Linked DNA regions of Homo sapiens. The protein of the gene in region 1 purifies or fractionates together with the protein of each later gene. This does not show direct contact. Each region holds a gene or a part of one and is shown in the gene's direction. Other genes may lie near its edges.

Region 1 (3,500 bases):
CTTTTTTTTTTTTTTAACATACATTCACTGCCATCCTTTGTCAGAGTTAGACAGTGAGGGCAGCTCTTCAGGCATTTCTTGGAAGTTGCCTTTGATCCAGACATCTCTGGGAGGATATCCATGAGGAGAGTAATTCTTTGTGAGAAATATGAAGGCTTGTGTCATGAGATTCTTGAATTTAGTAGAAATTAGAATACTGAGAACATCTTCATGTGACACTTCTTTTTTATATCTAGGGTGAGAAGAACCCATGTACAGATGGCCACATTAAAATGTGCACCACATTAAAATGTGCAATACCTAAGACTGTTTAAGGCTTTGATTTTTATTAATAAACTCATTATTTTTTAAGAGACAGGGACTTGCTCTGTCACCCAGGCTAGAGTGCAGTGGCATGATCATAGTTCCCTGTAACCTCGAACTCCTGGGCTCAAATGGTCCTCTTGCCTCAAGTTTCTGAGTAGCTTGGGATACAGGCATACACCACTACGCCTGGCTAATGTTTGTAATTTTAGTAGAGACAAGGTTTTACCATGTTGGCTGGGCTGGTCTGGAACTCCTGGCTTCAAGTGGTCCACCTGCCTTGGCCTCCCAAAGTTCTGGGATTACAGGTGTGAGTCACTGCACCCAGCCTTAAATTTTTTTGTATAGATGAGGTCTTGCTGTGTTCCCCAGATTTGTCTCAAACTGCTAGACTCAAGTCATCATCCTGCTTAGCCTCCTAAAGTGTTGGGATTACAGGTGTGAGCCACCACACCTAGCCTAATATGGTTTCAAATGCTCAGCACTCTCACATTTTCCTGATTCCATTCTGTCTGTTTGTTGTCTTTATTTTCTCTGGCAACATAGTGATCACTTTGTACTTGCTTGGCCTTCTCAGATGAGTCCTAATTCTTTCTGGTGTTTATCAGATTCTTTAATCCTGTGTAGAGGGGTATTTTTAGGTCCCCCTCAGCATTTTTCTAGGGATTGAATTATAGCTAAAACAGGCAAAATAAAACACACAACTAAGATGAATCCATGGTAAACCCAGTAAACCCAAGAAAACAACATGGAGAGGAATCTCATTGTCTGATCTTATAAACATTTGCGTGAAGTTTTGCTACAAAATAAAGTGCCTAGCATTTTAACAGGTGAATCAGGATATACGTGGGCAGGTTTACGTGAGTTTCATAGTTAACCACCATGACCTTAGTCCCTTGGTGCTAGCACTGAATATGGTAATTAGTTTTGTTGTGTTTTGAGATGGAGTCTCACTCCGCTGCCTAGGCTGGAGTGCAGGAGTGCGATCTTGGCTCATTGCAACCTCTGCCTCCCGGGTTCAAGCGATTCTCCTGCCTCAGCCTCCCAAGAAGCTGGGATTACAGGCATGTACTACCATGCCCAGCTAATTTTTGTATTTTTAGTAGAGACAGGGTTTTGCCATGTTGCCCAGGCTGGTCTCGAACTCCTGACCTCAGGTGATCCACCCACCTCAGCCTGCCAAAAAGCTGGGATTACAGGTGTGAGCCACTGTACTTAGCCTGAATCTGGTAATTTGAAATTCCTTTTGTGAGATTTTCTTTTAGTTTTCAAGCTACATGAGATAATGTTAGGTTAAAACGTGTGAAAAATAGAAAATTATCATTTTCTCACTTTGAGCTTTCCTCACAACCTTTTAAAGCACTGCATATATATTCATGTTTTCATAGTGGGCATGTACCTTTTACTGTGGTCCTTTTGCACATATTATAAATAGAATTCTTGGTGAGTTAAGAGTTCTCTGTTTTTGTTTTTTCAGGACAGAGTGCACAGTTTCCTCTCCTGTGGGAAGGAGAGTTGACTCTTGAGGACCCCCACCCTCCTGCATCCTCTCTCTGGAAGGCTGCATGTATTGTAGCTGTGGCTGTACTTGTACCTAAGGCCCTGGGTTCAAGAGAGTTGGAGAAACCCCTCTAGAAACATATTGGCTGTCATCAAAGGGTTCTTTCCAGGCCTGAGGACCTAGGCCCCAGTTTGTCCCAAAGCAGGAGTGTTTTCCATGGGATAAAGGACACCCTAGGTTTTTCTTAGCTTCCAGCTCTTTCCATACAGTCTTCACTGAAGTGTTTGGTACAAGGATCTACTATGAACTTGCTGCTGTGATAGGCAAGAATCTCATGAGACACCTGTCATTTAGCTCCATGGCCACTCACTGTTGTGGTCATACTTAGAAGAGTGGGATGCAGTGGATGGCTGGGCTATGGGTCCTGCCCTTGAGCAGGGAAGGAACTTACTGTCTAATATAGGAAAAACACATGAGAACAGGTGCAATATATTGACTTAAACTTGTTTAGCACCCGTTTTTAAGTCAGTAGAAGTTTTGAACTTACAGTAAAAGTTGTGAACTTCTGTATGTTTTCCACAGTTTATGATTGAGGTAAAACATGTTTTTTGTTTTGTTTTTGAGACAGAGTTTCACTCTTGTTGCCCAGGCTGGAGTGCAGTGGCGCCATCTCAGCTCACTGCAACTTCTGCCTCCCGAGTTCAAGGGATTCTCCTGCCTCAGCCTCCCGAGTAGCTGGGATTACAGGCGCCCACCACCATGCCCGGCTAGTTTTTTTGTATTTTTAGTAGAGACGGGGTTTCACCATGTTGGCCAGGCTGGTCTTGAACTCTTGACCTCATGTAGTCCACCCGCCTCTGCCTCCCAAAGTGCTGCGATTACAGGCGTGAGCCACCGTGCCCGGCAGAGGTAAAACGTTTTCATGTTCATGTTTTTGTAACTTTGTTACATTTAATGAACAAATTAGATAAAAAGCACTATGCTCTTATGCTGCTTAATCTGTGAGAAATGATTGTGGGGGTGGGACTAGTTATGACCATTCACAGTTGGTGCACTTCAATCAGTAAATGTCACAGAGGAAATGTGGACGGTAAATTAACTCGGCAAGTCGGTCATGCAAAGACGAATTAGAAATCTTAATATTTGTAAGCAGACAAAAAATGTGTCTGGAAGGATCCTCACCCAGTTAAATGGTATTTGCTCCTTGGGTGTAGAGGGAGGGAAGGGATGGGGTAGAGGGGAATGTCAGAGTTCACTTTAACTTCATGCACATGTGGAAATGTTTGAAATGTTCACAGTAAATTTTATAATTTCAGAAAAACTGCTTAAGGTTGAAAAGAGAAATTTAAGAAATTGCTGACGGAATAAAAACATAATAGAACTACAACACCGAAGGAAATGAAAGAAGCAAGAAGGAAAGCACCAGAAGTGATTTGGAAGAGAAATCCTAAAATGAATGTGAACAACAGAGTGATCAGAAGAGTGTAGGGAATTAATAGTTTCTTTAAACAAGCCATCTCACAATGGAAGCCTGTGTGTCTTGAAATTGCTGTGGTTATTATTCACTCTGCCCTTTGAAGAACTGCAGAAATTCATAGGGCAATGTTAAGTGTTTGTGTCTCCAAAAAAGATGTTGGAGTCGTTACCCTCAGAACCTCAGGTAATCATGTTAGTTAATCCATTAGGTTAGTTCCTA
Region 2 (3,500 bases), on another chromosome or scaffold:
TAGATACAGTCATCTCTCAGCAAGCTTTTTATAGTGATGAATCTGTGTCAGCAATGGAAAAGCAATACCTGCGTAACAGTAATCTCACACCACAACAAAAAATAGATGAACTTCATCATGGATTTACTGGTTTAGATCTTGAAGAACAATGGATGTACCCCTCACGAAGTGATCATTCTAACTGTCACAATATTCAGACAAATGATACAGCTAAGACAACATTCCAAGAATATCCACTTATCAAAAACTGTTTTACACCCCAAACTGGTCTGTCTGATATCATGAAAGAATCAGGAGTTGATATCTACCATTATGGAAGAGACAGAATATGTACTAAAGGTCTTGAAGCACCACTACAGCAAAAAAGGGCAGAGATGTTTCTTTCTCAATTTAATAGATACAATGAAAATGTAGATTATTGTAGATACCCAGAGTATGTTCATCCTAATAAGGCTAAGCTTAATAAATGTTCAAATTTTAGTGTCCAAGATAGCAAAAAATTAGCCAATGGCACACCTGAAACACCAACTGTAGAAGCAGACACCTACACAAAGTTATTTCAGGTTAAGCCAGCGAATCAGAAAAAAATGGAGGAGACAATCCCTGATCAGCAGAATTTCACATTTCCAAAAACTACGCCACATCTGACAGAGAAACAGTTTGCAAAGGAAGCAGTATTCACTGCTGATTTTGGCTTAACATCAGAATATGGACTAAAACCTCACACAGCTTGTCCCGCTAATGATTTTGCTAACGTCACAGAAAAGCAACAGTTTGCTAAACCTGATCCCCCACATTCTGAGTATTTTAAATCAGTGAATTTATTATCAAACTCAGCAACATCTTCAGGAGGTATCAATTTAAACAGACCAACTTGGATGAATGTTCAAACAAAAAATAACACTCCTATTCCTTATCGAAATCAAGGTAACTTGATGAAATTAAATAGTCATTTAAGTGCAGCTTCAAAAGGTTCTAACCATTCTTCAGATTTCCCCCAACTATCATCCACAAACTTAACCCCAAATAGCAATTTATTTCAGAAATATTGCCAAGAAAACCCTTCAGCATTTTCTAGTTTTGATTTTAGTTACAGTGGTGCAGAAAGAATCCAATCTGTCAATCACATAGAAGGACTAACAAAGCCTGGAGAAGAAAATCTCTTCAAATTGGTTACGGATAAAAAAATAAAGCAGCCAAATGGATTTTGTGATAACTATTCAGCTCAGAAGTATGGGATAATTGAAAATGTAAACAAACATAATTTTCAAGCCAAGCCCCAGAGTGGACATTATGATCCTGAGGAAGGTCCAAAGCATTTAGATGGCTTATCACAAAATACATACCAAGATCTACTGGAGTCACAGGGTCATTCTAATAGCCACAGAACGAGAGGTGGAGACAATAGCCGTGTGAATCGCACACAAGTGTCATGCTTTTCTAATAATTATATGATGGGAGATTTAAGGCATAATCAGTGTTTTCAACAACTTGGTTCAAATGGGTTTCCCCTAAGATCCACCCACCCATTTGGCCATTCAGTTGTTCCACTGTTGGATTCCTATGACTTACTTTCTTATGATGACTTAAGCCATTTGTACCCTTATTTTAATATGATGTATGGTGATAATTCTTTTTCTGGTCTCATGCCAACTTTTGGATTTCAAAGACCAATTAAAACCCGTAGTGGACCAGCCAGTGAACTTCATATTCGTCTAGAAGAGTGCTGTGAACAATGGAGAGCATTAGAAAAAGAGAGAAAAAAGGTAACACAAAGTTAACCACTTAGGAATAACAGTATGTTCCTTTTGCCTGTCTTCATTCTGTTTACCTTAGTGTAGTGTAAGAGTACTTGCCTTATTTCTTTTTGCTTTATTTGTTGTTGTTTTAAAGAGACAGAGTCTCGCTCTGTTGCCCAGGCTGGAGTACAGTGGCAGAATCATAGTTTACTGTAACCAAACTCCTGGGCTCAAGCAATCCTTCCTCCTCCTGAGTAGCTAGTACTACAGGCACATGCCACCATGCCTGGCTAATTTTAATTTTTTGTAGACATTAGGTTTCACTATGTTCCCCACGGTGGTCTCAAACCCCTGGCCTCAAGCCATCCTCCCACCTTGATGTCCCAAGTGTTGGCATTACAGATGTGAGCCACTGCACCCGGCTAACTTGCCTTATTTCTGAGCTGAATTCTATAATGTCCAGGATTTGCTGTAAGTTCATTACTGTAAGGAATTAAGTGGGTTACTTAAAAACTAAAAATGGATGGGGTTGGCCAATGGGAAGCTTAAATAAATGAAGATGAAAAATGCTTGACATTTTAAAGTTATTGTTATTCTAAGTTGACTTGCCCTGAAGTAGATTTTTTACCCCCTTAGTTGTTACAAGTTTATTTCTTTGAATTTTGTAGTGTTAACCTGTTGGTATACTCAGGTATTTTATTTGTATTAAGACGATAGCTGGGCGCGGTGGCTCACGCCTGTAATCCCAGCACTTTGGGAGGCCAAGGTGGGCAGATCACAAGGTCAGGAGTTGGAGACCAGCCTGGCCAACATGGTGAAACCCAGTCTCTACTAAAAATACAAAAAATTAGCCAGGCGTGGTGGCAGGCACCTGTAATCCCAGCTACGCGGGAGGCTGAGGCAGGAGAATCGCTTGAACCCGGGAAACGGAGGTTACAGTGAGCCGAGACTGCACCACTGCACTCCAGCCTGGGCAATAGAGTGAGACTCCATCTGAAAAAAAAAAGATAGAAAAATACTGTGGTATTGTGGTTTACATTTGTTGTCTTTTGATACCAAAACAGAATTTTCATTTAAAGTGGTAATACTCTATTTATTAGGCTTACGAAAACTATTATTCATGGTCGAATCATATTTAGAAAATTCTACATCTAAAAAGTATGTAATTTTTTACAGACTGAATTAGCCCTTGCCAAGAATTATCCTGGAAAAAAAGTATCCAGTACTAACAACACTCCAGTTCCAAGGCTGACTTCCAACCCATCTAGAGTTGATCGCTTAATTGTGGATGAACTTCGAGAACTAGCCAGAGTAAGCTGTAAAAATAGATAACAGTGGATGGATTTTTTGTTAAATTTTTTTTAAGTTTCAGGCCAGGCGTGGTGGCTCACTCCTGTAATCCCACCACTTTGGGAGGCCGAGGCGGGCAGATCACCTGAAGTCAGGAGTTCGAGACCAGCCTGGCCATTATGGTGAAACCCCGTCTCTACTAAAAATACAAAAATTAGCTGGGGGTGGTGGCATGCGCCTGTAGTCCCAGCTACTTGGGAGGCTGAGGCAGGAGAATCATTTAAACCCAGGAGGCAGAGGTTGCAGTGAGTGAAGATCACGCCACTGCACTCCAGCCTGAGTGACAGAGCGAGACTCTATCTCAATAAATAAATAAATAAAACTCTCATCAAGTTTTAGAGCTTTGAAGGGTTTTTAAATCACATTTACATCTAACTCTCTGAAATATATTTTTTTCATGTTTGGTCCTAG

Evidence for each region. The genes of interacting proteins can lie anywhere in the genome.
Region 2: the proteins of ZNF550 (region 1) and MEIOC purify together in Homo sapiens (affinity purification with mass spectrometry; 2 studies listed by BioGRID and IntAct, with this or other methods). This does not show direct contact.

The regions. Positions count from the first base shown.
Region 1 is NC_000019.10:57,542,864-57,546,363, reverse strand, and holds part of ZNF550 (zinc finger protein 550), read left to right. Parts: 3' UTR 1-3,120; coding exon of another isoform or gene 3,121-3,164; 3' UTR 3,165-3,500. UniProt on the Homo sapiens protein: May be involved in transcriptional regulation.
Region 2 is NC_000017.11:44,666,468-44,669,967, forward strand, and holds part of MEIOC (meiosis-specific coiled-coil domain-containing protein MEIOC), read left to right. Parts: coding exon 1-1,766; intron 1,767-2,913; coding exon of another isoform or gene 2,914-2,915; coding exon 2,916-3,050; intron 3,051-3,500. UniProt on the Homo sapiens protein: Is required for meiosis completion in both male and female germ cells. Confers stability to numerous meiotic mRNAs in gonads allowing proper initiation and progression into meiosis prophase I.